2 separate regions of the Homo sapiens genome follow, and region 1 is linked to region 2. Evidence: fine-mapped QTL for protein levels in blood plasma. A gene starts in region 2. The other region holds a variant in brackets. All regions are shown on one strand. Distances are from middle to middle. Region 1 has its middle 130 kb from the start of MIR5192. Region 2 holds the start of B3GNT2 (UDP-GlcNAc:betaGal beta-1,3-N-acetylglucosaminyltransferase 2).

The links. A credible set is the group of variants that fine-mapping cannot tell apart. PIP is the chance, under the fine-mapping model, that this variant and not a neighbour inherited with it causes the effect. Protein levels are from the aptamer-based SomaScan assay of Sun 2018.
Region 1: its variant is the best candidate, but not a certain one, in a credible set for the plasma level of the B3GNT2 protein (Sun 2018, PIP 0.63).

What each region holds. Positions count from the first base shown.
Region 1 is chr2:62,329,127-62,344,940 of GRCh38, forward strand. No RefSeq gene overlaps it. Among named protein-coding and RNA genes, the nearest start is that of MIR5192, 130 kb to the left of the region's middle. RefSeq lists an enhancer at 4,878-5,107. The variant A/G (reference allele first, on the strand shown) is at 7,513.
Region 2 is chr2:62,183,056-62,198,499 of GRCh38, forward strand. It overlaps B3GNT2 (UDP-GlcNAc:betaGal beta-1,3-N-acetylglucosaminyltransferase 2), which reads left to right and starts at 13,060. Exons shown (of 2, transcript NM_006577.6): 1 at 13,060-13,300. It overlaps LOC124906013 (a long non-coding RNA gene), which reads right to left and starts at 12,958. Exons shown (of 2, transcript XR_007086336.1): 1 at 12,084-12,958; 2 at 10,934-11,852. RefSeq lists enhancers at 11,545-12,152, 12,759-13,365, 14,346-14,455 and silencers at 12,446-12,675, 12,966-13,405, 13,586-13,935.

The sequences.
Region 1 (15,814 bases), 150 kb after region 2:
TGGAGAAAGCACTGACTTAAATCTGCACAGCAAATCTTACCCTTGTTTACTGTACTTTTCCTGGTCACCTTCCCATAACTTTCCTTGCCCACATCCTTCTGCCTTTGTTAGCTAAAGAGTGTATTTTAGCTCAAGTTTTAGCCACTACTCTTCCCTGAGTTTCTCCCATTTGTATATAAGATCTACATATTAATAAACTTCTGTTTGCCCTTCTCTTGCTAGTTATCTTTTGTAACAGGAGCTTGAGCTGAGAACATAGAAGAATAGAAGGAAATATTTTATTCTTCCCTTACACTCACTAAATATTTTTCATGACCTGCTGATAGCTCATAACCTGCACATTTAAAAGCATTGCACTAAGCAGAATACCCTTTTATCTCCCCTCCCAGGGCTAAATATTTGTGTAATGCTTTAGTGTCTACAAAGCATGTTTTAAAGCGTACATTATCCCATTTAATCCTTGCACAATCCCAAAATGGGAATAATAACTTTCCTTTTATAAATGGGGGGAAATGAGGTCTAAAATGTTGGAGCAGCTTGCCAAAGTCATGCACCCAGAAATGCAGAGTTTGGATATTAATCTCTGAATCTAAATCCAGGGCTCTTTCACCAAAACCAGACGCCTAGTCCCACTTTATCAATACCTTCAACTCTTATGGTTTAGGTTAAACTAGACAAAGTAAACTCTTTTTGCGTAAACTGGATTCTTAGCGCTCACAAAACCTCAGAATTCTTTGTGAGCCTGGAGTTTGCATACCTGTCCTGCCTTCCCTTTCCTTAGCCCGGGTGGTCTGGCAGAGCTGGGAAGGTCGTTGCAGAGTATAAGGTGTACCACTTTCCCCCCAGGGCAAGAGGCCTCTACACCCACCTGGGGCTTCACTGTGGCTGGCCTTGGGTTTGAGCCCTGCCTTTGAACACAGCAGGGGGACACAGTCCCTGCCCTGGGCTGGAAGTAGTTGATTCACGCTGCTGTAACAAAATACCATACACTGGGCAGCTTATAAACAACAGAAATGTATTTCTCATAGTTGTAGAGGCTGGGAAATCCCAAGATGAAAGTTCTGGCAGATTCAGTGTCTGTTGAAGGTCTGCTTCCTGGTTCATAGATGGCGCCGTCTCAATGTGTCCTCACTTGGTAGAAGGAGTGTCGATGAAAAGAGTCCAACTCTGTAAAATATTTGAAGAGATTTATTCCGAGCTAAATATGAGTGACCCATGGCCCATGACACAGCCCTCAGGAGGGCCTGAGAACATGCGCCCAAGGTGGTCAGGGCACAGTTTGGTTTTATACATTTTAGGAAAACATTAGTGTATTAGTCCTTTTTCATACTGCTATAAAGAATGGCTTGAGACCAGGTAATTTATAAAGAAAAGAGGTTTAATTGACTCACAGTTCAGCATGGCTGGGGAGGCCTCAGGAAACTTATAATCATGGCAGAAGGTGAAGCAAGGCACCTTCTTCACAAGGCAGCAGGAAGGAGAAGTGTTGAGCGGAGGGGGAAGAGTCCCTTATAAAACCATCAGATCTCATGAGAACTCACTCACTATCACAAGAACAGCATGGAGGGAACTATCCCTTGATTCAATTACCTCCACCTGGTTTCTCCCTTGACATGTGGGGATTATGGGGATTACTCTTCTAGATGAGATTTAGGTGGGGACACAGAACCTAACCATATCAATGAGACATCAATCTAATACACATAAATGTACATTGGTTTGGTCCAGAAAGGTAGGACAACAGGAAGGAGTGGGGGACTTCCAGGTCATAGGTAGATTCAAAAATTTTTCTGATTGGCAATTGGTTGAAAGAGTTAAGTTATTGTCTAAAGACTTAGGAATGCCTGGGATAAGATAAGGGGTTGTAGAGGCAAGGTTTTCTCATGCAGGTAAAGCCTCTAGGTAGTGGGCTTCAGAGAGAATAGATTGTAAATGTTTCTTATCAGACTTAAAGAGTCTGTTCTATCAGTAATTCCAAAAAGGAGGAGGGTATAGGGAGGCAGTCTGACCCCTCCTTTCCATCATGGCCTGAACTAGTTTTTCAGGTTAGCTTTGGAATGCCCTTGCCAAGAGGAGGGGTCTGTGCAGATGGTGCGGGGCTTAGAATTTTATTTTTGGTTTACAGGAGCAAGGCAGCTCCCTGGGCTTTTTCTACAAAGGCTCTAATCCCACTCATGAGGGCACAGCCCTCACAACCTAATCACCCCCAAAGGCCCCCCCAACCCACCTCCTAACACCATTACCTTGGGGGTTAGGATTTTAACCAGAGAGGAGGAATTTTGGGGGAACACAAACATTCAGACCTTGGCACTCAGGAAGCTGGGAAATGATACCAGGTATTGGAGAGGAAAAATGGCTTTCCTCTATCCTTCTGGTTCATTGGCTAGGCTACTAATTACATTGACATTAGACAGATTAACAGGGGGAAAAACATGTTTAATTCCATGCATACACATGGGAGACCCACAGAAACAGGAGAGTCACAGAAGGGCCAAATGATTGGAGGTTATATAGCATCCTGAGCTACAGAAAGGAACAGGGGCTTGGGGCTTCTGGGGGGTTACCTTACACAGATGAAAAGTCTCTCAGGTAATAAAGCTTGTCTAAGCAGCCTTCTTCCTAATACAGATACTTTTACTAAGGTAAACTTCCTTTATAGATGTGTTTTTTTTTTTTTATAAAAAGAAAGCTTTTCAGAGCTACCCCTGTCTGCAGTTTCTCAGAATAACCAGCTCAAAATATACCAATGAAGTGTATTTTGGGGTGGCATATTTGGGTCTCCTACAGTAATATTTTTGGGTGGTGTGTCCTGAGCCCCAACACAGAAAGACAAACGATGGGGTCTGAGGACAGGTGAGCCAGCCTGAGGGTGAGTGGCTTTGGGTGGGGGACTGGGGAAAGGTCAACTGAATGAGCTGAGGATAGGGATGGGGTATCACATATTCAGGAAATGCTGAACACCCTGGGGGAGGGAAAGAAAACCTGGGGGTTAGAAAGCATGTCTACCAGGTGGGGCATGGTGGCTCAAGCACTTTGGGAGGCCGAGGCAGGTGGATCACCTGAGGCCAGGAGTTTGAGACCAGCCTGGCCAACATGGTGAAACCCCATCTCCACTAAAAATACAAAAAAGTTAGCCAGGGGTATTGGTGTGCACCTGTAATCCTAGCTACTTAGGAGGCTGAAGCAGGAGAATCTCTTGAACTCGAAAGGCAGAGGGTTGCTGTGAGCTGAGATCACGCCACTGCACTCCAGCCTGGGCGACAGAGCAAGACTCCGTCTCAAAAAAAAAAAAAAAAAAAAAAAAAAAAAAAAAAAAAAGCATGTCTACCAGTTTTCAAGTTGAAACACTGCCTCTCCTTCTTATTCTCCTACAATTCTGCTTCCATGGGTTTTCTACATGTGGCAGTGGTTAGGAGGAGTTTTGCAACATTTCAAACAAATGAGCTTTGTGTTTGTAGGGAAGGAAGGCTATCTAAACACTGATATGTCTAGAGAGACTGGTGAAGAACTTTTCCAAATGGGCTGCCAGGCTCTGCAAGCCAGTGAGCTCAGAGAAAAGCTCATCAGGGCCAAGAGAGAACTCTTTCTATATCCTCAGGATCCAGCCCTAGGTACCCGGGACAGCATTCTCTTCCCACCCAGAGAAGCCAGGGTTCCACAGAACTGAGCCTCCTTCCAGCACTAGCGGCTGGTGGGGGTTGAGGATTACCCGTATTTCATCCAACTGGAGACACCATCCACTGTAAGCTGCACTGTTATTTTATGTACCATTATGCAAGAAAAAAAAAAGCCAAATATGGAGACACCACTTAAAAGCTGGGATGCTGTAAGAAAATAAGTCTTCCCACAGGAGTGGCAGGCTGGAAATGCGCACGTCTCAATCCTGACACTGTGGAGGGAGGAACAACAATTCTCTCCTGACAATTTGAACCACGAGCCTGTGCTCATGCAGATTTGAGGTCTGAATTCATGCTGTCAGTGTGGTCTGAAAAAGTCAAGCTGAAAATTAATTTAATGTGGTCTCAGGTTGGTGGTGACCTAGAAGTGACTGGCAGCTGTGCATCATTTCCAGGAGAACTCAGCTTCGCATTGCAGGACGCCACTCATTTTAAAACACATCCTGGTTTCAGTGATGTTAAATATGAAGAAATGTGTTGCTTAAAATTAATGATGAAGGGGGCCAGGTGCGGTGGCTCACGCCTGTAATCCCAGCACTTTGGGAGGCTGAGGTGGGTGGATCATGAGGTCAAGAGATTGAGACTATCCTGGCCAACACGGTGAAACCCCATCTCTACTAAAAATACAAAAATTAGCTGGGCATGGTGGCGCGTGCCTGTAGTCCCAGCTACTCGGGAGGCTGAGGCAGGAGAATCACTTGAATCCGGGAGGCAGAGGCTGCAGTGAGCCAAGATTCCACCACTGCACTCCAGCCTGGCAACACAGCGAGACTCCATCTCAAAAAAAAAAAAAAAATTAATGATGTATGGGCATGAAACGGATGTGACGTTGGCTGAACTTATTACTAACTTTTCCAGGTTTGTCTGGAACGTTCCTGGTTTTAGCTCTAAAAGCCATGCTCCCTATGAAATCCCTCAGTCCCAGATGAACCACAAAGGTTGATCACTCCACCCATCTGGTTGTCTTTTGGAGTTATCTCCTCTGGCCTAGGGGGCCTTGTTTTTACAGGGGTGGGATGATTGTACCGCAGCACGGACACCTGACCTGGGGGGAGAATAGGGGAATATGGAAATTTAAACTCAGGAATCTGAAGAAATGAGAACACTTTCGGAGAACACTAGGCCTGGCCTAGTTATTCAGTTTCTCTTGGGTTCCTGTGCATTGAAATAATTTCAATAAATTCTCCCTTTTATTTACGTGCTCTTTGAGGGGTGGGGTAATTTCAGTATATCTCTGGCCTTTATAGCTAATGGGGCCCTGACTGAGGTAGGGAGGCAGCCCTGAAAGGCTTTTTAGAGGCTCCAAGACTAGCCTAGGCGCCAGGCTTGCCACTTGGAAAGCTTCCAAGAGAAACCAGCGATGCCTGTCAGCGGGTCTGTGTATGTAGGGGATGGGCTCTCCTTAGGCAGATTTGTCTAAATGAAGCAGAAGTACCATGAGCTCCATCCAACACTGTTGTTATTCTCACAACCCTGTAATTAGAATGATGTGAATTATTCCCTAAACAAAGGCCTAGAGAATAGTTTAACCATCTCTGTTTTATTTGTGTACTAAATAACTGTACTTGGAGTCATGTTTGTTTCCAAGCTCCTTATCACGTGTTTTCCTTTTTCTCTTCCCTGCCTCCTATACCAGTAAACTTCTTGAGGGAAGAGTAAGGTTCTCCTGCTCATACCTGCCTCTCCCAGGGCCCAGCATAGCTGCTTGTTTTCCTGTAAGCTCCTCGAGGACAGGGAGTGGGCCTCTGTGTGTTCCTAACGCCGAGCACCATCGTGACACCTAATAAGTTCTCAGTGAGTGAGTGCTGAACTGAGCTGCCACTTGTAGACTCACCAATAAATACCTGAGCCAAGGATGACGGATTTCCTCATCCAGTCATTCACTGAGTAGTTAATGAATTTGTATTATACGCCTCCATGCAGCTTACATTCTACTGAAAGGCAGACCAAAACCTAGTAAACAGACAAATAAAGTCAGAATAAGGTATGGTAAATGCTGTGGGAAACAAAAAGGAGAAAGAGGCCTAGTTGAGATAGAATAGCCAGGGAAAAACCCCTCTGAGGAGGTGACAGCTGTGAGAAAGGAAACACTTTCTCCCCACTCTCTTAGGTTCAGTGTTGGAGGCCTGTGAATTAAACTGACAAAAGACAGATTGGCAAAACAAAAACAGAATTTTACTCACATACATACATGGGAATTCACAGAAAAATGTGGCTCAAAGAGGTGATTAGGATTGGGGGCTTATATATCTTTTTCACAGGCTCTCAGATGAAAGACCTTTGTCTTTTGGCGGTAGCTCTGACATTTTATGACACAATATACACCCTTAATAGGAGAAGGGGATGGAGAGAAAGGAGACTGGAAAACCAGCGACTTCTAGAAAAGATAAATGGGCCCTAAGGCAAATAGATATGAGGGAGATATGATAGTTTTGTGACCATGTCTATTTAGGAGAGTTTTTATAGCCTTGTGGCTTCCCCTCTGGTGAAGGGAGTCACTCTTCCATGGTTGGGAAACCTCTGGGAAGGGGATCTATGATGGTTGCATTCTTTTGGGAGGCTCTGCTTTTAGGCAGAAAGGGGAGTTTAGGAAAGAAACTCTCTTCACCATGGTATGTTCTGGATCCTTTTGCTAGAAAGTTGGTTTCTTTTTTTTTTTTTTCTTGAAACAGAGTCTTGCTCTGTCACCCAGGCTGGAGTGCAATGGCTTGTGGATGTCCTTCTGCAGCTTTCTCTGTATTCATTGTTATGGACTGAATTGTGTCCCTCCAGATTCATACGGCGAAGCCCTAAACCCCTAATTCGACTGTATTTGGAGGCAGGGCCTACAAGGAGCTAATTAAGATTTAGTGAGGTCACAAGGGTGCAGCCTAAAGCCAAAAGGACCGCTGTCCTTATAAGAAGGGAAAGAGACACGAGAGAGCTCCCACTTCTCTCCTAAGCAAGCACAAAGAAGGGGCCATATGAGGACATAGGAGAAGGCAGCTGTCTACAGGACAGGAAGAAAGGCCTCACCAGAAAGCAGCCCTGACAGCATTTTGATCTTGGACTTCCGGCCTCCAGAACTGAGAAAATAAATCTCTGTTGCTGAAGCCACCCAGTCTGTGGTATTTTGTGATGGCAGCCCTAGCCAACTAATAGACTCGGATTAGTATACACAAAGATCCGTGCACAGGGAGTGTGTCTTATTTGATGTTTATTTGAGCAAAAATGGGATTGGGCTATACTCTCTTTCCTCTGAAACTAGCCTTAGTCATTAACACTATTAAATGGCCGTCTGGCTTCTTGCTGACACCCCACATCCAGTTCCATCAGGACGTCCTGCAGGCTCCACCTTCAAAATCCATCTGGAATCAGACTGCATCCCCCCACCTCGTGGCTTCCACTTGGTGCAAGCCCAATCCTGTCTCTCTCACTTAGCTACAGCAGCCTCTACACCCCTCTCTGCTTCCACCCTTGTCCCTTCAGTCCATTCCCCTCACAGCAGCCAGAGGAACCCTTTGAAATCTGTCAGATCACGTTGCTCCTCAGCTTAGAAATCTTAACTGGTTTCCATTCTACTCAGAGTAAAAACCTATCTTAGCCAGGTGGGGGGAGTGCATTCATTGTCTGTTACTCGGGAGGCTGAGGCAGGAGGATTGCTTGAGTCCAGGAGTTCAAATGCAGCCTGAGCAACACAGTGAGACCCCATCAGTAAAAAACCAAAAAAACCAAAACCAAAGTCTTCACCAGGAGCTGCCAGGCCCTACGTGGTCTACAACATGCATATACATCCCCCGCCCCCCAACATCCCTGCTCTGCTCTCTGACCTTCCCTCCCATCCCCATCTCCTGCT[A/G]CCCTGGCCTCCTTGATGCTACTAGATCACACTAAGCACATTCCCAAATCAGGGCCTTGGCACTCAGTCTGGAATGCCCGTCCTCCTGATGGCCACAATGTTCCTTCCCTCACTTCCTCCCGGGCTCCATCCCCCAACCCACCACCATTATTCTTCATAGCATTTCTCACCAGCTGATACTATATACTTATTTATTTGTTTATGGCCTGTCTTCCTCCACTAAGATGTGAAATGCATGAGCAAAAAACCTTGTCTTATTCCCTGCTATATCCCTAGCATTTAAACAGTACTAGGTTCATAGATGATGCTCAGTAAATATTCAATAAAGAAATCTCTCCAAGTCACTAAACATAAATATAACAACCTTTTCAATGGTTTTATAACATGTGCTAATATGAATAGATCACAATTCACGAAACCATCTCCCGTTAATGATGTATATGTTGTTTTTCACTTTTTGCTACATTAAGCGATGCTTGTGACAGACATTTTTACGTACCCTTCTCTATTAGTCCTTTTGTTTCTATAGGATATCTTCTCTAAAGCTGGATTGGTGTGTCAAGAGATAGGCATCGGCTGGGTGTGGTGTCTCACACCTGTAATCCCAGCACTTTGGGAGGCCGAGGTGGGCAGATCATGAAGTCAGGAGTTCGAGACCAGCCTGACTAACATGGTGAAACCCCATCTCTACTAAAAATACAAAAATTAGCCGGGCATGGTGGCGTGTGCCTGTAATCCCAGCTACTCAGGAGGGTGAGGTAGGAGAATCTCTTAAACCTGGGAGGCAGAGGTTGTGGTGAGCCAAGATCACGCCACTGGACTCCAGCTTGGTCATGACAGAGTGAGACTGCATCTCAAAAAAAGAAAAAAAAAATGAGAGAGATAGACATCAAGTTTGAATAGCCATTAGTGCTTTTCCTTAGTCACTGTTCATAGACAAATCCCCAAGCAAGGCCTCCATCATTTCCTGGAATCTGGGGCCAGTGCAATATTGCCCTTAGACCAGGCAAGAGGCCCTCTACCCTTTGGAGGGCCTTGCATGTCACAAACACAAAAATTAAATTTATTGAAGACCACATGGGAGCTTTTGTCACCTGGGATGCTGGACATATCACTGGCACAGTGTGACCCGTAATCGTGAGCACCGATGAGTGAGATGAACACCCTTAGTCTCCACATTTCCCTCCTATGTTCTCAAAACAAAAGGCTGCTGAGCCCAAACACTGCGAAGGTCTACAGGTTGTGCCCCTGCTGACACTGGAGACAGACACTGCTTTGGAGGGAGAAGGAATGTAATTGCCTCATATGTGTGTCCCTTCTCTCAGAGAGCATGAATTCAAGAGGTCCTGGCATAACCAAATATTATTTCTCAATAGTGCCAAGGGCCTATTTTTTTCTTAATTTGTCCTAATCCGTGATTCTGGAGGCATTCACAAATTAGCTTAGTGTTTACAGGAGTCGCACGTGGTGGCTGTGTCAGTTATCTATTCCTGCGTAACAAACCACACCGAAACTGGGTGGCTTAAAACGACAAAAATTTATTTGCTCATAATTCTAGGTTGGGCTCAGCTGGGCAATTTTTCTGCTGATCTCCTTTGGGGTCACTTATACAGCTGCAGTCAGCCAGCAGCTCAGCTGGCACTGGATGTTCCCAGATGGCTTTGTTTATGTGCTTGATATTTACGCTGGCTATTGGCTGGGGTGCCCTAGTTCTCCTTCAAATAGCCTTTCCTCCTTTAGGAAAGAACTGGGCATTTTCACATAATGGCAGAAATGTGTAATGTAATTAAGGCCTAGCTGTGGGAGTTGCAACATGTTACTTCTGTCTCAGTCTATGGAGCAAATGAAGCCTTAAGGGATGCCCAGATCCAGGGGTTGGAAGGATATAGACTCTATGTCTCCATGAGAAACATGGCAGAAATTATATTGCAAAGGGGCTGGATGCAGGGAGGTAAGACGTGTTGGGGACCATTATGTAACAATATACCACAGTGCCTGAGGAACATTTTGCCAGGCTGAAGAATTGATATTTTTTGGCGAGGCACAGTGGCTCACATGTGTAATTCTAGCACTTTGGGAGGCCAAGGTGGGTGAATCGCTTGAGCTCAGGAGTTCAAGACCAGCCTGGGCAACATGGTGAAACCCTGTCTCTACCAAAAATACAAAAAATTAGCCAGGTGTGATGGTGTGCACCTGTGGTCCCAGCTACTTGGGAACCTGAGGTGGGAGAATCGCTTGAGCCTGGGAGGTGGAGAGCCATGATCGCACCACTGTACTCCAGCCTGAGTGACAGAGTTAGATCCTGTCTTAAAAAAAGGAAAAAAAAAAGAATTCATATTTGTCTTACATTTATATACATGTAGTTGTAAGATATTTGAAGCATGATACAGATTCTTTGCTTTGCTTATTAAGCAGACATTAAAACCCAGAATTGTGAAGTTTTATTTATTAATTTTGAGATGGAGTCTCGCTCTGTTGCCAGGCTGGAGTGCAGTGGCACGATCTTGGCTCACTGCAACAACCTCTGCTTCCCTGGTTCAAGTGATTCTCCTGCCTCAGCCTCCCGAGTAGCTAGAACTACAGGTACGCACCACCACACCCAGCTAATTTTTGTATTTTTAGTACAGATGGGGTTTCACCATGTTGGCCAGGATGGTCTCAATCTCTTGACCTCATGATCTACCAGCCTTGGCCTCCCAAAGTTTTGGGATTACAGGCGTGAGCCACTGTGCCTGGCTGAAGTTTTATTTTTATAATAATATTGAATAAGATTTAATTATCAAGTATAAAAAAATTTAGCCTTACTTAAATAACTTTATTTTTTAAATTTACTAAATTTTTGTATTTTGCTTTGTAATATTAATAATTTGGACAGGCGTGGTGGCTCATGCCTGTAATCCCAGCACCTTGGGAGGCTAAGGTGAGAGGATCACTTGAGCCCAGGAGTTTGAGACCAGCCTGGGCAACATAGTGAGACCCCTGGTGGAGCTGGGGAAAGAGCCACAGAGAGAGCTCAAAAAATTAGCTGGGCATGGTAGTGAGCACCTGTAGTCCCAGCTACTTGGAAGGCTTAGGTGGGAAGATTGCTTAAGTTTGGGAGGTCGAGGCTACTGTTGCCCAGGATGGAGTGCAGTGAACTGTGATCATACCACTGCACTCCAGCCTGGGCAACAGAGCAAGACACTGTCTCAAAAAAAAAAAAAAAAGTTGAATGTTTTAGAAGAAAAACAACTTTATTTTGTAAACTCTTAGATCACTAGGAATGAATACAAGTTGAGTTGGGATCAATTTAGAAAATATGACAGTGGAGCTCAAAAAAAAAAAAAAGCCAAAAAAGGAAAAGTATTCAGAAGCGCATCAGCTTAAATTTTTTAAAACTGGCAACACTGAAAATGAACAGTTTTCTGTTGAGGTCTCTCATAAAATTTGTAAGCAAGAGAACTTCACAAACTCTTTTTCTTTTCCCTTCCCTCCTTCCCTCCCTCCCTCCCTCCCTGCCTCCCTCCCTCCCTTCCTTCCTTCCATTTTTGAGCCAGGGTCTTGCTCTATTGCCCAGGCTAGAGTACCGTGGCATTATCATAGCTCACTGCAGCCTGGAACTCCTGGGCTCAAGCATATCTCCTGCCTCAGCCTCCCAAGCTAAGACTACAAATGCATACACCTCACATGGCTAATTTTTTATCTTTTGTAGAGATGAGGTCCAGCTATGTTGCCCAGTCTGGTCTTCAGCTCCTGGCCTCAAGTGATTCTGCTGCTGCCCAGGCTGGAGTGCAGTGAGCTGTCATCACAGCCTCCTAAAGTGTTGGGATTACAGGTGCGAGTCACAATGCCCAGCCACAGATTCTTTTTTAATGAGATTTTAATGCTGATGAAACTGTAAAAATAAGCAAGAAAATTATTCTCATTAAATTCATAACTTGAAGAGGTTGAATGCAATTCCTGCAACTTCTTTTTTTTTTTTTTTTTGAGACAGAGTCTCGCTGGAGTGCAGTGGTGCGATCTCGGCTCACTGCAACCTCCCCTCCTGGGTTCAAGCAATTCTCCTGCCTCAGCCTCCCAAGTAGCTGGGATTACAGGCGCCCGCCACCATGCCACCTAATTTTTGTATTTTTAGTAGAGACGAGGGTTTCTCCATGTTGGTCAGGCTGGTCTCGAACTCCTGACCTCAGGTGATCCACCCACCTCAGCCTCCAAAAGTGTTAGGCCTGGCCGCAACTTCATATTTTTTTTTTTACCAAATGAGGATCTGATTACAGATCCAAAGAATAAGAAGGTATGTGGCCTCTGTTTGCACTTGCAAGTGTTGGGGGCAATGAAACTGTGTCAATCAGCTTCCTTCTCCCCAGAGTCTGTTTTCAGGTTAGGCAGGAGAACAGGGCAGAGTCATTCCCAGAAGCCTGGGCCTTGTCAGATTCTTCAGAAGAGACGGCCTCCTGGGACACTCTGGATCCCTGGCAGAGAGCTCAACCCTGACAGCCTCCCTGAGTCATACCAGAGCAGTCACTGGGTCCTGATGTCCCTGTTTCAGATGCTCTGCTCCCTGCCCCCGCATCTCTGGAGTCATCGGGCTGCTGCATGCCCATCAACCTGAGTAGTTGCAGGCTATTGGTGTCATTTCTGGAAAAGAAGGCAGCTGCTTCTCTGTTTGTTTTTCTCTTCCAACACAGTGCCGTATTTACCTACAGAACCACCACAAAGTGACAGCCCTGGCAGATCTGCTACCATTCAGCAGCTGCCTCAAGTCACCCAACATAGTGTTTGAGTCTCCAGTGAGAGGGAGGGAGACAAAGGCTGCATTCCACAGACCTGGTGATGGAGGCCCAGAGGAGAGAAGTGATTTCCTCAAGGTCACCCTGCTTCTCGGTAGCAGACCCAGGATTCTCAATCTTTAGTTCAGATGTTTCCCATTGTATGAATTAGGAATACTGAACTGTCTTCACTTTTTGTTTGTTTGTTTGTCTTTGAGACAGGGTCTCACTCCCCTTGCCCAGGCTAGATTGCAGTGGTGCAATCACAGCTCACTGCAGCCTCAACTTTCTGGGCTTAGGTGATTTTCCCTTCTCAGCCTCCTGGGTATCTGGGACTACAGGTGTGTGCCACCATGCCTGGCTCATTTTTTGTATTTTAGTAGAGATGGGGTTTCGCTATGTTGCTCAGGCTGGTCTTGAACTCCTGGGCTCAAGTGATCCACCTGCCTTGGTCTCCCAAAGTGCTGGGATTACAGGCGTGAGCCACATCTTGGTTAGAAGTTTGTTCTTTTGTTTTTTTGCCCTCCTTTGTAAGACAGCCCTATCCTGATAAATTATCAGGATACAGGCTTAGGGATTGGGTGAGTTTACCAATGAGATTGCAAGAATGCTAATTAAATTATCCCTTTCCCAGGAGCCTCTGCTTCCTGAGGCTGCCCCACTCCCAGCCAGCAAATGCAAATGGACTTAACTGCAGTAAACTTTTGTTTACTTGGGGATGTTGGTTACATTTTCAACTGCAAAGATTTATAACCAAAGTTAAGGGGTTATAAAAAGACCTCAGTGTCCTATTTATTATAACGTGAAAAGTAAATATCCAGACTACTTTATTTGCAATAGCAAAAGTTTGGAAATAACTAACTTGCCCATTAAAATAGGATTGATGAAATGACTTCTAGTACATCCACAGGACAGCATACTATGGAGATATGAAAAAGGAATGATACAGAAGCTTTCCTTTTTACTTTTAAGTTATATTTTTTGCATAATAATCTACAAATAGAATACTGTATAATGAAAAGCCTCCCTTCTATTCTGTCTCCCAGCCACCAAGTTCACCTTCTGACAGGCAACCAGCATGACCTATTTCTTCTGTAACCTTTTAAAGACATTTCATTCACATAGAAGCATTTATAAGGATAGTCAGCCCAGTATTTTGAGGCTGGGCTCAAATGCCTCTGGCTTTTTTCATTTACTGTTTTCATTTGTTCAGGAAACACTTACCGAGCACCTACTATGTGTCAAGCACTCTTTTAGGCATTTGGAATTTGGTAGTGAACAAAACAAATACATTTCTTGCCCTCCTGGAGCTTACATTTAAAAAAATTTTTTTTTTTTCCAAGACAAGGTCTTGCTCTGTCACCCAGGCTGGAGTGCAGTGATGTGAACACTGCTTGCTTCAGCCTCGGCCTCCTGGGCTCAAGTGATCCTTCTGCCTCAGCCTTCCAAGTAGGTGGGACTACAGGCACCCACCACTACCCCCAGCCAGTTTTTAAATTTTCTGTAGAGACGGGGTCTCACCATGTTGCCCAGGCTGGTCTCAAACTCCTGGGCTCAAGCAATCCTCCCTTCTTGCCCTCCCAAAGTGCTAGCATTACAAGTGAGCCACTGAGCTGGCCACACTTACATTTTTGTGGGATATAAATAAACAAGTGATATATAGTGATAAGTGGTAAGTGCTATGGAGCAAAACAGGGTAAGGGGATAGATGTGTGTGCATGTATGCATGTGTGTGTGGCGAGGGTGGTGGTGAATGGGATGTGGATATTTTATGATAGGGTGGTGTGGAAGACCAGAATATGCCACCCCAAAATATGAAGGATTTTTGAGCTAAAGACAATTAAGAAGAAGCAGATACAGGAAAGCTCTCTGCCCTCCTTCTATTTGCCTAAAAGCAGGACATAGATTTACAAAGGCAAAAGATATCCTACCCTGCTACCCTTCTTCCAGGGAAAACAAAGATTAGCACTGAAGGTCTAACTTTGGACCCTTATCAGCCTGGAGATGTCACCAGAGGAAGCCACATGAACAGGCCTTACTAGCCAGGCTGTTTCTGCCATTTATTGGCTTTCTCACAAGTTGCTGCCCCTAGAGACTCAAAATCCTTTTCCTTTGCCTTGTCACTTCTCTAAATATTCATTGTTCTTTGTTGACAATGCCACATAAGCTAGAATTCAAAGCCACCTTTTTGAGAACTACTCATTCTCTGGGTGTGTTCCATGTATACATTAAATATACATGTTAAACTTCAGTTTGTTTTTATCTCATCTTTTGCTACAAGGGTCTTTTCCAATCAAAAACCTATGAGGGTTGAAGAAAAAATTATTTTTATTCTCCTATAGTGGTCAGTGAAAGATTTGCCAAGGCCTGAAGAAAGTGAGAGAGTGAGCCAGGTTTCTTCTGCTTTGAATCCAGATATCTGGATTTGAACCTTCAAAGCCTTCAAACCCTCCACGTGGAGCGGAAGGAACTTGCTCTGAGGAACAAAGCAGTTATGGTTGAAACTGAGTGAATATATCTTGGAGATCTTCTGTATCATGAGAACTTGCTCATTCTTTTTACACCTGCATCTTATTCCATTGTATGTGTGCACCACGGCTGAATTAAGCAGGCTGTTACTAATGGAGATTTCTAAGACATCTGTTCTTTTGTGATTGCAAACAATATTGCAGTGAGTAACCTTATCAGGTGGTTCTTTGCAATATGCAAATTTCTGTGGAATTAATTCCCAGAAGTGGAATTGCTAGGTCAAAGGTATGTGTGCCTGTATTTTCATATAGATTTTGCCAAACTGTAACTAACAAAGAAGGTGAACTATTTTTGGTCTGCTGCCAACTATATATTGATTTTTTTTTTTTTTATTTGAGACAGAGTTTTGCTCTTGTTGCCCAGGCTGGAGTGCAATGGCGCAAACTTGGCTCACTGCAACCTCCGCCTTCTGGGTTCAAGCAATTCTCCTGCCTCAGCCTCTCGAGTAGGTGGGATTACAGGCCCCCGCCACCATGCCCGGCTAATTTTTTGTATTTCTAGTAGAGATGGGGTTTCACCATGTTGGCCAGGCTGGTCTCGAACTCCTGGCCTCAAGTGATCTGCCCGTCTCAGTCTCCCAAAGTGCTGGGATTACAAACATGAGCCACCGCACCTGGCCAATTCATTATTCTTTAAGTAAATACGTATTGAGCACCTACCATGAACCAGGTACTAGTCTAAATGCTGACAGTTGAGAATTGGAACAGAAACCACAACTTGCCAAGCATATCCTGACTCACAGAACAGATTGACTGTGCCAGACCAGTCATGCCAGAAGCTATGACGTGCTTCATACACTATCAAAACTCAATACTCAACACCGATTTGTTCAGACCCATGATCCCAAGGTGAGACCACTGACAATTCCATTAATTATCTAGTTTTCAAAATCTAACCAATCCTTGCAAAGAGCACCCTCTAAATAACATCTGGGACAAAATATACCCATTAGTGAAGACCATTTGACTTTGGGTAGTGCAATAGGAAGAACATTCATTAATGAGAAAGGTCTCAAAAAAGAGGAA
Region 2 (15,444 bases):
CCTATAATCCCAGCACTTTGGGAGGCCAAGGTGAGAGGATCAGGCCAGGAGTTTGAGACCAGCTTGGACCAAGCTTGGCGGTTTGGATTAATATACATATATACATGTATGGACTAGTATACATATGTATATATGTGCGCACATATATATGTGTGTATATATGTGCGCACATATATACATATGTATGCTAGTTCAAACCTCCAAACTTCCAAACATTATCTCAGCCAGAATATATAAAGAATGCCTACAAATGAATAAGAAAAAGACAACCCAATTTAAAATGGACAAAAGACTTAAACAGGCACTTTACAAAAGAGGGCATCCAAACAACCAGTATGCATAGGAAAGGGCATTTACTGTCATGATCAAGTTAAATGCAAGTTAAAACTGCAACGGGGTACCAGTACATCTCCACTGAAACAGCTAACCTTTTAAAAAACCTGATGATACCAAGTTTTGGTGAGGTGTTGGAGCAGCTGGAATCTTCATACTGACGGAAGTGTAAACTGGCACAACACTGTTGGAAACATGTTTGCCTGGAATTAGTAAAAGTAAACATATGCATCCCTTGTAACCCAGCAGTTCAATGCCTGGGTACAAAGCCAACAATAATGGGTGCTTCTGTCCACCGAAAGATGTGACCTGGGTTCATGATTTTGTTGCTTTTCCAACATGGATGTGAAGGAGCTGGATGTGAAGGGGCTCCCTCACATCCTCATCACCCCTCACTGTGCCCAGAAGTGGCAGCACGCACTGCTTCCCTGCCAACATGAGCCCTTCAGCTAAACCTTGGTCACCAGTCCAGATGACCCAGTATTCTGTCCTGCATACTGACCTCAACTGGGATTAACTCCATCCATCAGATTCTAGTGCAGGCCCACAATCCTTATTCAGGAGTTAGAATTTTCCAGATTTTGGGAAGTAATGGTATATACATATCATAGTCTATCTAACACCCCATGTTTCACTGCAGATATATGAATGTGTTCGGAGCAGCTCCATGATCAAACACCTTAACATATTTGTAGTGAAACATAGGATAAATAAAAACTATGCCCTCCCATAAGGTCCAGTCAGATTTTGCTGCCATGTTAGTTTTAGTGCCACCTTCTGAAAAAACTCATTTTCCAGCCCTTTATGGATTTCAGAATTGCAGACAAGATTGTGGGCCTGTGGGAGGAGGGGTGGCCTTTGTCAGCGCAGGGAGGGAAAAAAAGAAATCAAAACTGTTCATTTCCATTTCCCCAAGACAACCAACAGCCCCTGGCCTTATATCTACATAACCAAAGGACCCTCCAGTGGTTTTTTTCCAAGGGGAGTCGGTGTATCTACTGCTAGAATGAGGAGTGACGAGAAACTTGTAAATAGTTTTTCTTGTTAAAAAAAAAAATTTCTACCACATCTGGCTCCACACTACAGTAGGTGCAGCCCGAAGTATAAGATTCAAGTTCCTTGCTCTTACTCACTTAGCTGAAATGCTTGAGGTTTCTATAACACATATTCCCTGTGCTTCCTTAATAGACACAAAAACACCCATGTGTATGGCTTTAATTTTGAGGCATTTAACTAGATATATAACAATGCACAAAGTAATTTCCCCAGCTCCTTTCCATGACAACTATTTACATACCCTAGCATAACACTTCCTATGAGTTGGCCCTACAGCCAGAGTAGGAATACAGCCAGGGATGGGGTGGAGGAGGCAGGGCAGCATGGAGAGGCTGGATAAAATGATATTTCAGTATTTTTAGTGAGACAGAAAAAAATTCATGCAAACAGCTCTATTCCCTCCCCCTCTTTTTGTTTTGTAAAATCTTTCTTTCTCCAAAGCTCAGTTTTGAATTAGACCCTTGTTGACCATGTCTGCTTAAGTCTTAGATAAAGACTTATTTATTTGACCTGCATATCCATAGTTGCTAGAACTGCTCATTTCAATTTTCCTATTGTGTACACTGTGTTGGGAAGCTTGGCAGGAAGCACACTATGGAAATGTGGAACCGAACAGTTGAATGTGTGTGATTTGGGAAGTTCAGCAGATGCCAGGGCTTAGCAGGCTCCCGGCTTGTTCAAGACTAATCCTGTGGATTTTCATTCTTGTGGGCCTCATGCCCCTTAAGTCTGAGGGCTGGGTCCCGCTGGGTCCCACCCAGACTCAGTCCACACAGCTATCTCTCAGCTGTCCTACTAGTAACGACCAAGGTAGTGCTGTGCTGACTCTTGGATGCTCTCCTCTTCCCTCTCCCCAAGGAAGTGGAGGGTTCCAGAAATGGCCCTGGTCAAGGCTGCCGTGTTTTCTCTGGACATGAGTGTAGACTCCAGGTTGGATTCTAGGAGACCTGAGGGACTGACAATGCAAACTCATCTTCCCTATAGCAGATGACATGTGTCACCCAGATCCCCCCTCCAAGACTGAAGCACTCATGCCCCCATCTACTGGGAGTGCTGACGGCGGCAACTGTCCGCTGAGTTCCTCTCTGACACTTGTCCTCTGCTGCAGAGAGAGTCACCTTGCCTAAGATGAAGCTCACATTGACCACGGGCAGCCCACATCTAATGACTGGCGGACGCAGGAGTAAAAAGGGTTCGTCCTTTCACCCCAATTTGTAATAACTCTGGGCCATCCCACCACCAGAGCTCCCTGAAAGATCAGCTGAGGTCTTTACCATGATTGCACTGCAGTTCAACTTCTCTCTTTGTCCATTCCTACCCACCTCACTTCCCCTCAGGCGTTGATGCTGTACCTACCCTTCAATAAACTTCCTGCTTGCCAACCTCTGTTTCCGAGCTTGGAAACCTTACCTACAGCACCCCCTTTATCGGGCAGGTAGAGCCCTGTGTCTGGGGGACCATGCCTTCTTCATGCAATTCATGCTGCCCTCCCCCTCCACCCTATCCTGCCATCCTTTGAAAACTCAAATTGGTCTAAACGATTCAGGATGGCGCTATACACTCTCGCCAGTGATTGGCTTAGGAAGGGTCATGTGACTGTGTTCTAGCCAATGAGACGAGAAGGGAACTTGGGTAGAGAACTGTAGGAAAGGTTTTCTGGGTCATAACAAGAGACAAGGGAAGAAAGAGTCCCTTTTCTGTCGGATGTTGGCTCTGACTGAGATGCCTGAAATAGCTGTAGAAAGCAATAGATGTGAGAAGAAGATGGAGCCAAGAGAACAGCAGAGAAGTCAGACTGAAGCAGAGCCACGACGTGCTGGGTTGGAGCCTACTCTGCCTGTGATTTTCTTGTCATGTGTGATACATCCCCTTTGACAGCACAGAAGGGATTTGTCACACAAGTACTTAATGATGAAGTTGCATCAAATTTGCAATTTTAGTTCTAGTTCCAACTGCCCATTTCATTTTCCCACCCTTTGGGGGCCTTTGTGTTTTGAAATCCTTGGTTGTCAGGATTCTTTTCTTCTTGGAAGTTTTCTAGTGATCCAAACTCTCTTTTTTTCCTGATTTTTGATGGCCATAAACATGTCTGATTGATCAACTAAACTGCTTCCTTTTTCCATGGCCTTATGGGTGTAAAATTTATACGGCCAATGTTATGCAATGTGTATGCAGTGCTGGGGATGGAGGGCTGCTGACTCTGAAAAACCCTTTCCTGGGATGACCTTAGATGAGAAAAGAAGGAAATGGTGATGAAAAGCTTTCAAAATGTAAGGGAATGTGGCTTGGACCTAAATGGTTAGCACAGACTAGGATATTCTTAGAAAATGCCTCCCGCCTCTCTGTAGTTGATTTTGAAATGTCAGTTCATAACTGCCATACAGTTTGGCACAGGGAAAATTGCCTAACACAGCAGTGGGATTGATGGGTGGAGAAGCCCTTTCTTTTTTCCCACTTGCCCATACTCTTCTCTGCCTAAAGACTGCTGCTTCCTTTTTTTTTTTTTTAAAGTGGATGTACAATTTACAAACAATAAAATGCACATATTTCAAGCAGTTAACTAATAAAAAAATTATTTTTTTCCAGAAAAGAAAAGCACAAATATGAAGTTTACCGTGTAAAGAGTTGTGACAATGGTATGCTCCCATGTAACCAACATTCCAATTAAGTGGTAGAATCTTTCTCTTATCCCAGAAAATTCCCTCATGCTTTTTTTTCCAGTTAATTCTCTCTTTATCCCAGAAGCAACTCGAGTTCTGATTTCTGCCACCATAGATAAGTTCTTGCCTGTTCTTAAACTTCACTTGTACTTGCGTATGACTTCTTTCTCTCAGCGTAATGTTGGAAGATTCATCTGTGCTGTCGCATGGATCCTGCTTCCCTTTCAGACTATTTATGGGATCTGTTGCTCTCTGATTTCCCTGACTGCCGACTGTCGTGTTTGAGGAGGAGGCCCTGCCCTTCCTGGCAATGGTTTTGCTGTAAGACGATTTTGCCAAGTGAGTTTCGTAAGTCACTGGATCCTAAAGATCAAGCAGGTGGCTCCTTCCAGGGACAGCCAATTGATTTTTCCATTCTACATGATTATATTGATGATGATGGCGTCAGAACCCTTTGGAATGAGGACAGAATGGCAGTTCCTCCAGTGGAGGGCCCAGGACAAATGTTGAGAATGCGAAGCATTCTATGCCAAGATACCACTCATACTTTATCCTGATGGGGACTTGGTTCCATGGCCAAGACTGAGGAGGGAAACAAACATTTATTAAGCCCCAAATGTTTGCAGGTACTTGGCCATAAATGACCTAATTTCCTCTTCCTGAGAACTCTTTAGATGTTACTGTTCCCATGTGGACCACACTTGGCTTCTTCCCAAGGTGGGAGTTGAACCTGGAATTGGGGATTTCCATACCATGGTTTTTCACTAGCAGCAGCCAAGACCTAGGCCACTGTATCCATCTGAGTTGTTGCATGCATATCTCCATGTGGTGGTTAAACCTCACAATCATGTCCACAACTGGATTGCCACAAAGCAAGACTTGGAGCGAGATACACTCCCTTTCTTCCTTTCTCAATAAGAGCCACCTAGAGTTGGGAGATTGGTCTTCATTTTCTAAAAATATTCTCTTTCTCCATAGCCAGGCAGCTTTGATCTTTGGTAAAGGTGGGCAGATCTTTGTTATGCCCCCTGGAAATCACTGTTTTGTAACAGTTATGTTTACAACTGAGATGGTTTCTAAACCCTGAGAAGCATAACAAAGGGCGATGCCAGCAAAAAGGCATTAAGTTCTCTAATAGGCTTATGTCCTGATAATCATATTAATGGCACTGTCTCATGCTTGATGCTGCCATTATGGGCCTCTCGTCTTGAATATAATTTTTCAGTTTGATGATAATTAAGACTATGATTTTGCATTTCTCCTTACTGAGAATTCTATTCCCAAAACAATATGATGACCGTAATAGAGACAGCTGTTCATGCCCCTCCAAATTGTTGACCATAGGTACCACCACAATGTCCTATACACGCTGGACTTTACTAACCTGGGAATTTTAAGTTCTTTCAGCATCAGGACTCTGGAATATGGAGCAAGTCCCCTGGGAATCATTACATTTGTTTCTATATCTGCATCTGATAATGAGGCTGTTTTTCAACTGTTACAAAGTCCAAAGTCATAGTAACCTTCGGAGCAAAGGACCTGCTTTAAGAGCCAGGTGATTTTTAACCTGTGATTTAATTGTCCAACGTTCAAGATATTATCTCTGGTATTAGGTATTTGGCTTCCAGAAAGCTACTTTTGGGGCCTCATTTGCCAGTTCCAAGGGATTGGAGTAGAATTCTAAGAATTCCAGTGCCAAGCTTCCACACTTTCCATCAATAATTAATATTTTAGCCATTGAGAGAGGTGGTTGTTGTTTTCATAATTCCACTTGGGACTGATTAACAGACTAGGAAACATTGCCATCCTTCTGTGACAACCTAAGTTGGAGGATATACAAAGTTTGGGGATTTCTGCTGCTGATGCTATCTGTGTGTGCCTGGCCCTTAGACAGGCTGGGAACTTTTCTAGATCTGTGCTGAAAGGAGGAGGGAGATACAGGGCTCAGGCACCCATCTGGCCATGGGGTTTGCCACCGAGGAAGAAGGCTTTCATTCTGAACCATGTCCAAAGGGCTGCAGGAGTTGGTTCCAACAGAACCAAGAAGGTGGAAGCCAGCTCTGGGCTTATAGATGTTTGAGTTCCAGGGTGGCATCTCCATGGGGTCTGTACCTGAATGGCAGGTTGTTGGGGTGCTCCTGGTTAGTGAGGCAGAGGCAGTAAAGAACAAAGGAGGTGGGTGTAGACCAGGGCTGTGGCTCTGTGGGCATGAAGGTGTCCTAGGCTGGCCAGGTGAAGTGAGGCAAACCGCAGACCTTGAAGGCTGAGAAGGAGGGGCATTCAGGTCTGCTTGCTCAAAAGCTTGCAGTCTGGCTGGGCAAAAATACCAGGTGGATGCTGGCACCAAAGGGGACACAGGAAACTTGCTGAAGATCAGCCCGTTTCCTCACCAGAAAAATGGGTGACAAGGCCGGATGCTGTGGCTCGTGCCTGTAATCCCAGCACTTTGGGAGGCCAAGGCAGGTGGATCACTTGAGATCAGGATTTCGAGACCAGTGTGGCCATCAAGGTGAAATGCCATCTCTACTAAAAATACAAAAATTAGCTGGGCGTGGTGGTGCATGCTTGTAATCCCAGCTACTTGGGAGGCTGAGGTGGGAGGATCACTTAACCCTGGGAGGCAGAGGTTGTAGTGAGTTGAGATTGTACCACTGTACTCCAGCCTGGGGAAAAAAAAAAAAAGAAGAAGAAAGAGAGAGAGAGAGAAAGAGAAAAAGAAAGAATGAAAGAAAGAAAAAAAGAAAAGAAGAAGGAGTGACATGGAAAAGCCAGACATGAGAGGCCCAGGGCAAAGCACACAGGATTCACTGTGTAGTCTGGGCTGCCTGTCCACCTCGGAGGAGCACATGAGTGTGACTGAGAGGTGGCAGGGCTACAGGAGTGACAACACGCTGGGAAGCAGGAGTGCCAAGGGAGAAATCTATGACCTAGAAACTTTTTATAGACCCTCTTCAGACTGTCAGATCAACAGTCTTCACAGCCACAAAGAAATGGGCACATTCACAAATGTTCTCAGGATAAATGAGCAGTCTGGATGCCTTCCACTCCACCTTCTCCAGGAAGCCTCCCAGACTTTCCCAACCCTGACTAATTGTTCCCCTACCTGATCACTTCTCCTCCACGTCCCATAAATGCTGTTGTTCCTTTGGGGAGACTGTTGCCCAGCCATAGTGCCTGTCCCTTGCCTGGTGCTTTTTATCTTCTGCTCTCCTGGTCATTCCCTCTTGCCCACTCTCTTAAAACTTTAGCTCCTGGCTCCATGGCCTTCACACCATAACTGCCATTCCTCCTCACATCCTGGATGGCTTTCCTGTTCACACAGAGGACCTATCCAGTGCCCTCTTAATCTCTTGACCTCATATTCTCCAATGACTTTCTCCTCTATGCCTCCCCATCATGTCCTGGCATTGTCATGGCCCTAAACTTCTCCACCTCCTGAACTCCTTACTTCAGATCCAGATCTCTGACCCAATTCCTCTCCTTCTGGTGTGACTTGGTCTTGACTCCTTGACTTTTCCAGTCCTTTGGCTCCTGTCCTTTCTCTCTGATCATTCACCGTGCCACCTCACCTTTGCCAAAGCTCTCAATTCCTTTGCTCCTCTGCCCTGGTAATTTCCTCATTTGAGCTGGCACCACAGTGGGCAGCTGAGCTGTTGGAAGAAACCACACAGGAGGGCCAAAGCGCACCTTAAAAGTTCACAGGCACCAGCCTCAAGTGGACTGCCATGCTGCCTTGCTATCTGGCTGTTTCTCTGGTCATCACGACCCTCCCAAACTCCTGCAGTGACTGTCATACCTTCTCCACTCTCTTCAAATCTGTCATCTCTCCTTGCCCTATTGCTAGCCTCCTTTATGTCACAGAGTTAAGAGGAAATCATCAGGTGGAAAGATTCAACTATCTCTGTGATGGCAGCCTGGCTCAGTCCTCCTCCAGCCTCCTTCCTCCTGTTATAATACAGAAGGTGGCCCCTGCCTCAGATCAGCCTTTCCACCCACACTCTGGTCCATCCCTCCCATGGGCACAGGAGCCTTTGTGCTCCATTGTCCTTTCTCTACTGTACCTTCATCTTCCTCTTCTCTGTGGGATCCTCCTTATTTGCATTTAAATATACTGAAGTAATTCCATCCTAAAAATAATTAAAATACATAAACCAAAATAAACCCACTGCTGACATAACATTCCCCTCCAGCTATTTCTCTGACTTTTCACAGTTAAACCTTTCAAGAATTGTCTGCACCTTGTGCCTTTCATTTCTTCACCTGTTGCTCATGCCTCCATCCACTCCAGTCTATTGCCCATCCCCTTCATTCCACCAGCCGCTGCTCTGTAAAAGTCCCAACGACATCAAGGTCACTAACTCCAGTGGATGTTATTCAACTTTCACTTCACTTGGGTCACTTAGCCTTTTTTTTTTTTTTTTTTTTTTTTTTTTTTGAGATGGAGTCTTGTTCTGTTGCCCAGGCTGGAGTGCAGTGGCCTGATCTCAGTTCACTGCAAGCCCCGCCTCCCGGGTTCATGCCATTCTTCTGCCTCAGCCTCCCGAGTAGCTGGGACTACAGGCACCCACCGCCACACCGGCTAATTTTTTGTATTTTTAGTAGAGATGGGGTTTCACCGTGTTAGCCAGGATGGTCTTGATCTCCTGACCTCGTGATCTACCCACCTCAGCTTCCCAAAGTGCTGGGATTACAGGTGTGAACCACTGCTCCTGGCCAGCCATTTTTAAAAAAAGACATGGGGGTCTCGCTATGTTGCCCAGGCTGGCCTCAAATTGGGCTCAAGCTATCCTCCCACCTCAGTCTCCTGAGTAGCTGACACTACAGGTGTGTGCCACTAGACACATCTTTTGTCACCCATTTTGAGTGCTGTTGACTACTGCCTCCTGCTTAGAGTGCTTTTGTCCCTGGACTCTGTGACCCCCACCTCCCCAAACTCCTAGTTTTTTCTTTTTTTTTTTTTTTTTGAGACAGAGTCTCACTCTGTCGCCCAGGCTGGAGTGCATGGTGTGAACTCGGCTCACTTTAACCTCCACCTCCTGGGTTCAAGCGATTCTCTTGTCTCAACCTCCCAAGTAGCTGGGATTACAGGCGCCTGCCACCACGCCCAGCTAATTTTTAGTAAATATGGGGTTTCACCATGTTGTCCAGGCTGGTCTCAAACTCCTGACCTCAGGTGATCCACCTGCCTCGGCCTCCCAAAGTGCTGGGATTACAGGCGTGAGCCACTGCACCTGGCCAAGCTCCTGGTTTTCCTCCTGCCTCTCTGGCTGCTCTTCCACCTCCTCTGCCAGAGGTTTGCCTCTGTCTGGCCCTTAGATAAGAGTTCCTCAAGGCTCAGTGGTAGGTCCTCTTCTGATCTAATTGTACACTCTCATAGGAGCCCACAAGCCTCTGGTGACTTCATTACCACTGCCACACCAGCTATTCCAGCCCCAGCCTCTCCTCAGAGCCCCAGACCCTGCAGCCAACCACCTGTTCAACATCTCCACCCGGACATCTCACAGGCACCTCAAACCTACTTTGACCAAATTTGAACCTTGAGAGGGTTCTCCAACTCAGAAAATGGCACCACCATCCATCTGGTTAAAGAAGCAGAGATCTGGGAGTTTTCCTTGATTCATCCCCCCTAAGCAATTACCAAGTCTCGTTGGTGTCTACCTCTCTACATTTGCTCTACTGCTTAAACAAATGGCCCCTCTCACATTATAGCAACAGCCTCCTAACTGTCCCTCCATTCCATTCTTCCCCTTTCCCTATTCCTTCTTCACACTGCAGTCAGAGTGATCTACTTCAAAATGCAAAATTGAGTGTATGACTCTTGTTTCAAATGTCTCAGGATAAAGTCCAAACTCTGTAATGTGGTGTACTGGCCCTGCGTGATCTAACCCCTGCCTGCCTCTCTAACTTCCTCCTCAACCACTTCTTCCTTTATAGTCTGAACCAGCCAGGAACTCCTCATGGACTCCCCAGATGATCTCACCACCTTGCACTCCCTGTGGCCCATATCACAATTGTAATTAATTAATAGTGCATTTAATTGTTAAGCCCCTCTCTCCAGCTAGACTGTGAGCTCCAAGCAGGGAGTGTGTTTGCCATGTTCACCACTCCAGCGCCTAGTCCTGTGCTGCATCTAGAGGATGGCCAGTACATTTTTGTTGAATAAGTGAATAACACATCTCTGCCTACTGATGATGGACCTGGGTCCCAACCTAACAGTAGGGACTATAGCCAAGCGATGTGGAATCTAGCATTGAGTTACTCCCCAAAAGACACAAGGTAACTATTGTAGATATACTCCCAACTGTGTTAAAGCCACCATGGAGAAAATGCCCTTATTTATTTGAGACGGAGTCTTGCTCTGTCGCCCAGGCTGGAGTGCAGTGGCACGATCTCGGCTCAGTGCAACCTCCACCTCCCGAGTTCAAGCAATTCTCCTGCCTCAGCCTGCCAAGTAGCTGGGACTACAGGTGTCCACCACCACACCTGGCTAATTTTTTTGTATTTTTTGTAGAGACGGGGTTTTACCATGTTGGCCAGGGTGGTCTTGAACTCCTGACCTCAAGTGATCCGCCCACCTTGGCCTCCCAAGGTACTGGGATTACAGGCATGAGCCACCGTGCCTGGCCTAAGAATACCCTTATTTTTAAATTTCATGGCCTGGGCAGCCTTGGGCAGCGAGGGACACAAGCTTAATTTCCTAGTTGGTTGCCAGCTGACATTGTAGCAGCTCCTTTACTATAAACTCCTTGGCTGGCCGTTCTTGCAAGCATGTCTGTGGCTACAGGGAGTGCATTTAAAGGGAAGACACATATGCATGGAAACAATATACCAATCTGATGGCACAGAAAATCTTCCTTAGATGTCCGCTTTGTCTCAACACTGCATTTAAATATCAGACAGCAGCCTAGAGATATCTTTATTTAAACCCAGGAACATGGACTCAATATTATTTTGATACAGAATGAAGACATAGACTTCATTTATTAATTTATACTCCCTAGAGTTCTTTTTTTTTTTTTGAGACAGAGTCTCACTCTGTCACCCAGGCTGGAGTACAGTGGCACGATTTCGGCTTACTGCAACCTCCGCCTCCCTGAGTTCGGCGATTGTCCTGCCTCAGCCTCCCAAGTGGCTGGGATTACAGGTACATGTCACCATTAATTTTTGTATTTTTAGTAGAAACAGGGTTTCACCATGTTGGCCAGACAGGTCTCGAACTCCTGACCTTGTGATCCACCCGCCTCGGCCTCCCAAAGTGCTGGGATTACAGGCGTGAGCCACCGCGCCCGGCCTCTACTTCCTAGAGTTCTTAGAGAATTTCTAGCTTCTGTTTCTTTAAACATGTTTTATTAGCTTTCTAAATTATGAAAGTAAATACAACTGGAAAAATACAAAATCCAAAGTCAAGGGAGTAAAAAAATGTAACTCCCTTGTTTCCCCTCCCCGCGTAACCGTGGTTAACAGTCGGTGTGCACCCTTACAGATGTTTTTTCTATGAAAATACAAACATTCGACTTGTTTCTTGGACTTTACCTCGCAGTCCGAGGAGAATCATGTGAACAGCATGAAAGCAGCATGGTCCGAAGACTGCAAACCATAACATTTCCATATCTACTGACTCTGAATTCCTGTTTCTAGAGGACCCGCACCCACGTGGCTCTGTGCATCCGCAGCAACTTGGTCTTTCTTCCTTTGCTGAGTTTGGTTAAGGGAAAGGGCCGATTATTGAGTGGGCTCAGTTCACAGGTGCCTGAAATTCCTACTTAGCAATGTTCCTTTCCAGCTGATTCCGCCTCCGAGAGCCTTAGGAAAAAATGCTAACAGTTAGGAGCGAAGCGTCCTTAATTGCTCAGTCCAATTATCTAGATGGGTCCAGGTTCGGTTTCGATTCAGAGATAAGGACCAGGGGGCGGGGACGCTTCCAGGTGAGCCCCTGGTTAGGCTTGCCTCCCCGCGGAGCGCACGCGGGTCTCGCTGGCTGGACTGGGCCTTTCAAGACCAGGTAACTTCTCCATCCGGTATCGCCAGGCTTACCTGGGGGCCTCAGAATTGTGTCAGCTGCGTCTCTGAGTCACCTTGGAACCCCTCGAAGGAGCGCGGGGCTAGGAGGGCGCATCGGTGGGCCCGGGGACCCCGCTGCTAGGTGTGGTTGGCGCCAAGGCCGCCTCTGGCCGGCGGAGCCCTGCAGTGTCCGGAGGGTGCGGTCAGAGTCCGGCCCTTTAGGCCTTGCCTCGGTATCCGCCTTGCCCCTTGGGCCGCGGCACGGGTTCGGGCCGAGCGCCCGGCATCTTGCGTTTCTGGCTTCCTGAGACGGGCGTGGGACCTCGAGGAAACCACTCTGCATGACCCCACGAAGAGAACTAAGGACCACCCCCCACCCTTCCTGTCCTGGACGGCTTCATAAGCCAGAGGATCCAGTGGCAGTACCAAGCAGGGCACCACTCTGGGTCGTGAGCACCTAAGAGGTGGAGCAAAGGTCAGACCCCAGGGTGGCCCAGGCCTCCCTCCCCCGCCTCCCCGGCGGGGCCATTCCTCACCCGCCCCAGCACTGGAGGGGGCGGCCGGGGTCGGTCTAGTTCCGGTTACAAACTGGACAGAAAAGGCCACTGGAGTCTCGCTAGGCGATGCGCCTAGTCCCCTAGCCTCAGACGAACCGCAAGAGGGGCCACCCACAACTGGAGGGGCGGAGGCTGGAGCTGAGTTTCATTAGTGTTTTTGGAGCTGCCAGGCATTTCCAGGGGGGTCGCCTTCCTAGAGGCCCCCTTTCCCCAGCTTAACCCTCGGCTTTGCAGGAGGGTGCGTGGGGGCTGGAGGGTCCCTGGAAGCCGCAGGGAGCGCGGGCCCGGGTGGGTCCTGGTACCGGGTGGGGAGAGCGGAACCCTCCCAAAACTTGGGGCGCGGGGCGGGGCCGTCGGGCGGTGACGTGAGGGGCGGGGCCGGGCCCCATTGGCGGGCGGGCAGGGGAGGGGCGGGGCCGGGCGCCCGCGGCGGCTGCTGCGCCTGGAACCGGAGCCTGGAGTGAGGCGCAGCGGCAGCGGCAGCAGCGGCAACAAGTGCCGGAGGCTAGCAGAGCCAAGCCGGAGCAGTCCCTGCCGCCGACACCGCCGGGCCGCCCGTCCGGGGCGCCGCGCATGGAGCGTGAGCTGCGGCGGTCGCCGGGCTGAGCCGCGCGGAGCGGCCGGGACGTGGATGTGGCCGCGATCTCCCGCCCTTGCCCCCGCCCCGCCGAGCTGGAGCTGCTCCCGGACAAGGTAGGGCCCGGGCGCCGAGCACCCCCGCCGGCTCCCTCCCCGCTGCCCTCTCACCGCCAGGCCCCTCTACCAGTCCCCTTCCGCCTCCCTGCTTCCCGGCCCCACCTTCCGGACACCCTGCTACCCCCGCCCGGTTCCTCGCCGGTTCCGGCTTCGTACCCGCGCCCCGGTGGAGGAAGCCGTCCCTAGGTGGCTCCTGCCGCATTTAAGCCTCCCTTACCTTCCCGCCGTCCCAGCCACCCAACCTCAGCCCAGAGGGAGAGGAGAGGGACACCGCCCGCTGCGGGGCTTTGGAACCTCCCAACCCATTCCGTGCCCACCTCGCCCTGGAGCCCGGGGACCTTCCCCCTCCTCGCTGCACCCCAACTTCCGGGGGATCCGGCGCCGGGGCGATGCGGGCTTTGGCAAGGGGCATCTGGGGCCGGGCCTCCTCATCCGGGGCGCGCGGGCATTTCGGGGAGGGGGGCGCGCGTGATTCCTCGCTCGCACCCCCGCACCCCACCCTCGCACTGCGCCGGCCTCCCGTGCCGCATGGGGAGATCAGGTGTTTTGTGAGCCAAAGAGCCGCCGGCAGCCGCTCCCCACCCCCCACCCCCAACCTCTGCCACTTCTGTCTCCGGCTCCCCCAAAACTGGTTTCTGCCAAACTTAGGGAAAACCTTTCGCTTTGACCTTTTAAAAAAAATATTCCACACTGTTTGCGTTGAATGATTAACCAGGCTGCTAGCCCGAGTCGTGGGGGTGGGGTGGGGCGGGGTGGGGTGGGTGCTGCCAGGCCAGGGAGCGCCTGAAGCCGGACTCTACGAGACACCCCTCGTGGGAAGGTGGGCGTGGGGGGCCCTGCCGGGGCTGCGGGCGCGGGACTGGCGGCTACTCCAGCACGGCAGGCGGACCCTTCTGGAGGCAATAAACCGAGTCACCCGGTTAATTTCCAGGCCACGGTATTTGAAACTCGGGGCTGGGGAGCCGCAGAACTCCCTGTACCCCCATCAAGTAGAGGAGCCGTCGGGAGACTCCCCACAAGTGTCACAGCGTCAAAGCTCATCTTTAAAAATATGTACATTTATAACCTGGGTTGGCGAGGCGGCGCTCTTCTGCCCAAAACGTAGGGGTGGTTAGTTTGTAGAGTGGGCTTAGCTCACAGGTGCCTGAGCTGTATCCCCGTGGCCGCCTCAGCCACCCCAACTTCTCAGAAAGATTGTTTAGAACAATTAAACTATATTCTTTTGCCCTTCTCTTGTTGGAACCCTACCGTAATATCCGATAGCGAAGCCAGTTGGTGAATATAGAATTCTACTTGTTAAAACAAATTCTTCCGGTATAATTATTTGTGCCTCTGGAGGTGGTAAACGAGGTGGCCGACAGGGCCGGGACTGGGAGTGAAAAGGCGGGGACCCTGGCCGAGCCAGTCCCGGGGCTCCGGTGCCGGCTTATAGTCGCACCCATGCGGATCTGACAGCTGACCCGGAGGGAGGACCGGCAGGGCAGGGCAGGGCGGTCACTTCCCATTGTCCTAACTCCTGCTCCTGGTTCTTTTGAGTAGAGGGTGGTTAAGCCTGGAGGAATTTGGGAGAGTTTTACTCGGAGCCCATGCGCTCTTAAACCAGATTAGATTTTAAGAACACAGAAGTGAAGGAGCCCCATAGGGCTGTACTTGAGTAATTTGAGTAATCCTTTTCCTCCCTGCTCAGACTTTACAAATGTGTTTATCATTAGATCTTCTGTTTGAAACTACTTTTTTAGTTCGGAATATTGCTTTTTCTCCCTACAGCAAGGGTTCACTGTTTCTCATTTAGTTTTTGTGCAGGCGGCATTTGTATGATGAAGGCCTAATTCTCTGTGAAACTGACCAGTTCTCACCCTTGCCATTCATTAGACTTGATTCTGCCACATTTAATTCAGTGATCTTGGGCAAGTTATTCTTCACCTGAGCCTCATTTTACACATCTGGTTTTGGGGATGGTGGTGTTTGCTCTGCAAGATTATTTCTGAGGACAAATAGGATGTTTGCCAAACTCCTAGCACTGCACCAGGAGAGCTAAGAAGTGCTTAATAAATGGTGGTCATTGCTGTAATCAATAGAGAAGTTCCTCCTGGCATCGACTTCCCCTTACCAAAAACAGTAACCCTGTGGTAGCCTTTTAG